Linked DNA regions of Homo sapiens. The protein of the gene in region 2 interacts with the protein of the main gene of each other region in a pairwise test. Each region holds a gene or a part of one and is shown on either strand. Other genes may lie near its edges. The genes, in order: PICALM and ZNF521.

Region 1 (3,826 bases), on a different chromosome or scaffold from region 2:
TCAATGTTACTTAACTGGGGATTAAAGAAGGTAGCATACATGAGCAAACAAATCATAAAGCTGAAAGAAAAAAAAGAACTAAATTCAACAAACACCTACTAAGATTTCAGGGAGCAGGTAGCAACTGAGCATGCATACAGCAAGCAGTTCACGTAGTAAAACTTACACTGAGCTATTAGGCTCAGCTATTAGGAGTCAGTAGGCAGGCAGATGAGCTTTTAAGGGTGAGTTAATAAACAGCAACAACAAAGTGAAAGGAAAAAACTCACCACTCTCTATGGAACATTTAACATGTGCTAATAATGCACTGTGCTAAAACCTAGTCACCTGGGAGCATCTTAAAAACAAAAATTCTTGGGCCCCAGGCCCCACCTACTGAATCAAAACTCTAGGATTGGGACTCAGATATCTGTAGTTTAATAAACTCTCCAAATGCTTCTGATGTTAAAGTTGAGAACCACAGTCTCATCTGAAAACAAGGTTTCTCAAAAAAAGTTAAGAACTAACAGAGCCAGGATTCAAACCAGAATCTGACTTTTAAAACTACTTTAAGCCACTCTGAGGTTCAGAAAATGCCAATTGTTTTACTTTACCTGGCAATATTATATTTCCATGTTAAGTAGCTTAAATTAGACAACAAGATTATTAAAGTTAGTCTGGTAGGCTTCAATACCAAGAAACCTGGCAACTAAACTCTGTCACTGTGTTCCAGATTACAGAGTTTAAAACCAGGAAACAGATATGACAGACGTTTAATATCTAATGAAATGGTATTTTGAAATATATATCATATCCATATGTCAAAGAGCTATAAAGGGTCTTGAACCATTAGATGCCTCATAAATGTGTTTAATCATAATTTTTACACAATGAAAAGTTGGCCCAGAGATAACAGCTATATTCCTATTAGTATAAATCAGTGATTTAACTATCTTCCATTTCGTAAATACGTAAAATATAAACTCATCACTTTATCTTTAGGTATTATACCAATATCACCATTTATCGCCACCTCTTTGTGTGAATAGATTATAAAAGCATAAATAAAAGTAAACCTGAAAAGTTCTGCAAAATTTCTATTAGAAGTCTTTGAACCTACATATTCAAAGGTAACCTTAACTTCTACTCCTACCTGTTAGAAGAACTAGGGGTAGAAAATATGTCAATGGCTGGTGCAGTCATTATCCCTCCTGCTGAGGTGGATACAGGAGAGGCTGCAGTTGTTAAAGAGGTATGAGGTTTCTTTGCAAGTTCTTTTAGGCGCTGTTCCTGTTAAGAAAGGGAACTACCATAAGGATTCCAGAAACCAGATTTCTTTGTACAGCCTCTGAAAAAAGCATTTTCTAATTTGTTCTGATAGCAGATATTCTGTTTTACCTAATTCTATGTCAGGACGAAAAGTTAGACTGAGTTTCAGCCCATTAGGTAGCTATACATTTAAGACTCTAAGTCTGTGCAGAGGCCCCATTTACCTAATGAACACCTGTACTCATTTTTCGAAATAAGGAGAATGCACAAACTTACCTTTAAAGCTTTCAAACGTGCCTGTTCTTCCTCTAATGCTGCCTGCTTTTCCCTTTCATCCACTTTGGTCAGAGATAGACCAGTGCTTGCCAGGGAAGACACTGCATTGGAAAGTGTAGTTGCCCTAGGATAATTGAACAGAGATAATTTGGCTTTTTGCTAAACACTTCACATTACACCCAGGTCATGAAATGGTCTGGCAACCTTGCCATGGATAGGCACTATAATTATAAACTTAACTTCTGGATTCAAATCCAGTACTTCAGATGAAATATTCTACCTAGTGATCTACAGGATTAAAGCAATTAGAAAAATCTTGACTTAATATACACTCACTGCTTTCAGAGTAAGTGTTTGACTTTGGAAAGGGTTCACAACAGAGTGGGGCACATTGCCTCTTCCAAGCCCCAAGAGAGGAAACCAGTGCAATTGGGAAAGAGCCCACATAATCCCACAAAATCCCTGATGGGAAAAAGTGTTGAGTTTATCACAGGGAAAACCCTCTGCTAATTTACAGCCTACGTTTCGGCAGTGCCACAGGAACACCAAAACATGCATACCAGTAACACGTAACGTAAGTCTAGGTATGTTTCACCTATAACAACATCCCCAGAGGACTTCAGGTTCCTTCAAAAGAAGACTGGTTTCAATCTAGTCATCAGGCCATTTGGCATCTTTCTATGTGCTGCCCTTTTGCCAAACCAGAATTTCCTTTTTAATATACATGTACAATGTATCATTTTTCACTGGCAAGGCACCTCCTTTCCCTTTTATCAAAAACGTATCCACACTATAAACCTCAACATTAACTTTCCAAATGTTAACTCTAGGCTAAGTAAAACAAGTGGTAAAGAATTCTAACCTGAAGAACTACCTTGAGCTTTATTAATTTTCCTTTTACCACACACCAAACATCATTAGTTTCTACTCTTAAGCACGTAAAGTGGTAAAAACTACCTTTTAAATTTTATGTAATATTAGTATTATAAATAAGCCAATAAAAAGGTACAATTCAGAAGACAAAGGAAGAATAACATAGTTGTGACAGAAATGCAAGAAAACCAATAAATTTTATGATAAACATTTCAGGTAAATTGGTGCACCTGAACTACGTGGCTCTTTTTTTCGTTATTCTCTCAAATAAATGAGACTTATTGTTTTGACTGCTACTTCGAAAATCTTACTAGAAAATTCAAAGTACAAATCTAGGATTAAAAATGAGTACTAAAATCCAATAACGGCATTTCCCTTTGGAAATTATTTAAATTTTATTACTAAAAGAAAGATCAAAAGTTCTGAAACAACCAGAAAGTCTAAAAAGAACCAAAGGAAGGTTCTCACTATACAAATTCTTTCTTCATGCTGTTTTAAAAAAAGGTTCATAAGAAAACATGAGAATAACTCAAGTAATTTCTTAACCCAATACAAAAATCATGTTACCAGACTGATATGAAATGATTTCTGTTACTTTCAATTTGCTAGGTTAAATGGTCTTAGTCTGAGGAATTAGCTTAAAACATAATAAAGTGATTAAAATATAAAATATCAATAATCAACCCCATGAACTGGCATTAGGCAGAGATGATGCAATTTGATGTCAGATATTCTAGGTTTGAGTCCCAGCATTGCTACTACATACTTCACAGGGCTATTGTGAGGATTGAGCAAATTAATACGAAAGTATCTTGCAATTATAGGCCTGGCACGGTGGTTCATGCCTGTAATCCCAGCACTTTGGGAGGCTGAGGTGTGCAGATCACTTGAGTTCAGGGGTTCGAGACCAGCCTGCTCAACATGGTGAAACCCTGTCTCTACTAAAAATACAAAAATTAGCCGGCCGTGGTGGCATGCATCTGTAGTCCCACCCTTGGGAGGCTGAGGTGGGAGAATCGCTTGAACCCAGGAGGTGGAAGTTGCAAGTGAGTTGAGATTGTGCCACTGCACTCCAGCCTGGGCAATAGAGTGAGACTCTGCCTCGGGGGAAGAAAAAAAAAATGTATCTTATAACTACAAAGCACCACATAAAACAATGCATTAGCATCTTTAGGAGAAATTTTGACATCATAAACACAATTCTAAACTATGCAGTCACTGTCATTATCTTAACAGATGCTGACATTTATTGAAGGTCAGAAACAATTTCAAGAATTTGCATGTATTAATCCATTTAATCCTAATACTAATTCTATGAGGCTGATATTATGATTAAATCCATTTTATAGAAAATGAAATCAAGATATAGAGAAATTAAACAGCTTGGAACTTGAGCTGGTTTCATCTACTGCCTCAGAAAAATCACTCT
Region 2 (3,826 bases):
AAAGTCTAAATCCTAGAGTACAGAGGGTAAATGGCTTGCCAAAACACACAGCAAATCAGAGTATGCCCCCGTGCTCTTCCTGCTCTGCAACCATTTCCCTACAAGCACTAGTATCCAAGTCACAATACTTATGACCATAACTGTTTGTTTTTATTTTCAACTCTTTCCAGGAATTAATATGCACTCCCTTGAGCCCACAGTTCTTCTTAACCCTTGCCTCATGTCTGCAAAACATCATACAACTTTGCAAGTTGCACACTGACAACCCCAAACCCCCCTATGTATAGGAACTTCAGACTCCATACATCAGCATTCAAGCAATGATTCTGTTTTGGCTTCATTAGTACTTGGTAGATCAATGTTTGTGAAGACTTTACAGCCTTTTTCCTTTTCTTTCCTTTGTTTTTTTTTTGTTTGTTTGTTTGTTTTTTTTGAGACAGAGTCTCGCTCTGTCGCCCAGGCTGGAGCCCGGAGTGCAGTGGAGCCATCTTGGCTCACTGAAAGCTCCGCCTCCCAGGTTCCCGCCATTCTCCTGCCTCAGCCTCCCAAGTAGCTGGGACTACAGGCGCCCGTCACCACGCCCGGCTAATTTTTTGTATTTTTAGTAGAGACGGGGTTTCACCGTGTTAGCCAGGATGGTCTCGATCTCCTGACCTCGTGATCCGCCCGCCTCGGCCTCCCAAAGTGCTGGGATTACAGGCGTGAGCCACCGCGCCTGGCCTTCTTTTTCTTAATGTATAAAAGTAATCAATGAAAGACAAAAGGTGCTGATAGTGGTAATAAAAAGCATATGTCTGATAAACTTAACACAACTAAGACAACCTAAATCATTAGGAATGCTGAAAGCAATTAATATGTAGTCTTATTCAAGCACTAACTGGACCTAATCTGGCTCTATTGTGAAAGATAAGAATATTAGCTAAGAACACGTATGAAATGCTGGAAATTGTTTCTTGAAGTCAATATAAAGTTTAAAGCACAGTGATATTTTTTAGATTCCAGGTCACAGAAACTCCTATAATATGGCAAGTTATAGTTTACTGTGTGGACTGTTCACCTCACTACAGGTTTCAACAAATGTATTTTGTATGAATATATGGAACTGTCTGTAATCAATGAGGATTTTGTCCCTATCAGGTAAATAAGTTTCCATCTTGACATATCATATCCTTCACAGTATACTGATGGGATAATAAATTTTGAGAAAAAGCCAATCATAAGATGGAAAGAGAAGGTAATAAAGTCAGTGAAATAATGAGACTCAATGATACGCTGATTTTAATTTCAAAAAGGAAATCTTATTCTTTGACACCAATTTTAATTGGAAAAAAATCCAATTTTTCCCTTAAAACATTATTAACACTTATATGGACTTACTAAACAAAGTGCATTTCCTACAGAAGGTTTAGAGTATGTTTCCGTGTATATAGACTATGTATGTGTGTGTCACAATATGTTGTGATAACTGAGGGACGTAAACTCTTGGGTTTCACATATACAAAAAAATTATCATAACCAAAATATTGAAATATAAATCCAACAAACTGCACTATTATGAAAACAAATATTCTGAATGTCAATCACTTGACCTTGCTCAGATTGGGAGAGCTATGATCATGCGGGAATAGTATATATGCTTTCCAAACCAAATCATCTTTATTTAAAAATAAGATTCAAAATGAACACGTACCTAACACATACACACATAAAAATGACAGGCATACACATTTTTTTTCTTTTCAGGATTTTTCAAAGCATTTACTATCCCATAGAATTAAAAGAGATGCTGCCCCAAAATAATAATTTTTAAACTTAATCTTTTTTTAAAAAGTGTTCTAAGAAAGGGGAGTTTTTACACAGTCATATTGGAATCTAAATTTGTTTAATGACCAAATTATAAACCTCTGCAATCTGACAACTAGAGTAGAAATACTAACTATAGTATGTGCTGCCATAATAATGATACCCACAAGATCAGCCCAGTGCTTGTAGCTGTGGCAGGGTCCCCAGGCAGCAGGATAACTGCTGCTTGATCATTATCCCTGCTAAAACTGAAGCTACTGAAGTTTTAAAGAATTCATATCTTACTGAATTTCTTTCATCTCTAATAATTACTAAACTGGCATAATTACTTATACTAGAGGTGGAATGTGATGCATGCTAAAAGCCCAAGGTGCCTAAAATTAAAGTTTTTTATTAAAAAAAAAAAAAAAGCTGCGATTCTACTTAGTTTTCAGAGATTTATCTTGTGTCGGGCTTTTTATGCCAGGAGTTGCATAATTATTTAAACCATTTAAAAGCTTTCCTTACACTATTTGATTAATACTATAACAGAGCTATTTAAATTTACTAATGTTAACTTTAATGTTTAAGTTTTAATTGCTTTGTAATAACACTGTTGCAGAACATATTTTAAATCAGACAAGTACGCTTTCACTACAACAAACAAGGTATATGCAATCCTAGCACCATGTAGTCCCCAAACAAAAAACAGGAACATTTCAGATTTAATTGAAATGGAATTAGAAAGTTGCATGCATCTCCCCCACCCCTAGAACTAACTTTAACCTTTGACAGCACAACAGGAGTCAATGAAGAAAAAAATTAAATACATCTGGGAAAATACTTAGCTACAGGTTTGACGTGGAATATCAGCCTTTGTATCAAAATCTCATTCAATTCAAAAGCATTCTTTCACATCTTACTTAATGATAATATTTACATTTTTAATGATGCAGACAGCTGCTAAAATAAACAAATACTGCAAGTCTTAAAATCACTTTCCCTCTTAAAATTAACTGAAAAACTGAACATAGTATCCATTAAATCCAGCCATGAGGAATGTATTCTGTGGCAACAGAATTAATGACAGTAAACCAGCAATGTGAATCCTGACAGATGAATTAATAAAACACATTAATAGGAAAAAGAGACCCTTAATAAAATTCTTAATTGATCTTAGTAGACCTACTCTTTTCTACTATCAAAACCTCTTTCTTCTTATTACATGCTTTTACATCAAAATGAAAACTCAAGCAAGTATACTTAATAATATGCTTCAACTTATGTCAACAAGTATTTAACTAGAATTTACCAGACTAACGAGCCCTCACAAACAGACTCCTTTAAAAATAGAGGGAGGCAGGTACAAATGTTCCTCTAAGGTGAAAAGAAATCTCCTACAAATATGCTACGAGTCTTGCACTAGACCAAATAAGCAAGTACAAAGAACTAAGTATAATTACCGGAAGCAAAAAGTTGAAAAATTCTGTCATCACTGTTAGACGTCACTGCTGTCAGTAAGGATAACTACAGTGGTTTTTAAAGGATATGGAAATACTCTGGCAAAACAAAAAAGAAAAATTATTAACAGCTTGCTTTATAAAAGGCTGCTTGCTAATCTCAAATCCCTTTGTAATTTCATTTTTACATGTATGCTTTTATGTTCAGTATCCTATTTTTTGTCCTTTTTTGGCTGGATGAATAAAAGACAACAATCCACTCATGCATAAAACAGATGTTTTTGTTTTTAAGGCCAAGTGGAATCTTATGAATTTGTGTGCCCTCACTTTAGGAAGATGCTGCCAGAAGTGCTGAAATCGTGAAACCGGCGTTTTGGAAGAGACTCACTGGACCATCAGTTCTGGAACTTTGACTAGCACTCATGGGATCCTTGCCAACTGTAATTGCTGTTTTTGTTTATGTCGGATTGTCTACTGATTGGACTATAATGAATTTAATGACTTCAACATCTAGTCAGTATAATTTAAAGGTGGTGGAGGGAAGAAACAGTCACTGGTTGATAGATAAATAGAAGAACATTTGC

What was found.
Region 1: the proteins of ZNF521 (region 2) and PICALM interact in a two-hybrid assay, tested with the Homo sapiens proteins (one large-scale study listed by IntAct).

What each region holds. Positions count from the first base shown.
Region 1 is NC_000011.10:85,999,511-86,003,336, forward strand, and holds part of PICALM (phosphatidylinositol-binding clathrin assembly protein), read right to left. Parts: intron 1,649-3,826; coding exon 1,525-1,648; intron 1,270-1,524; coding exon 1,133-1,269; intron 1-1,132. UniProt on the Homo sapiens protein: Cytoplasmic adapter protein that plays a critical role in clathrin-mediated endocytosis which is important in processes such as internalization of cell receptors, synaptic transmission or removal of apoptotic cells.
Region 2 is NC_000018.10:25,342,007-25,345,832, forward strand, and holds part of ZNF521 (zinc finger protein 521), read right to left. Parts: intron 3,342-3,826; exon of another isoform or gene 3,246-3,341; intron 1-3,245. UniProt on the Homo sapiens protein: Transcription factor that can both act as an activator or a repressor depending on the context. Involved in BMP signaling and in the regulation of the immature compartment of the hematopoietic system.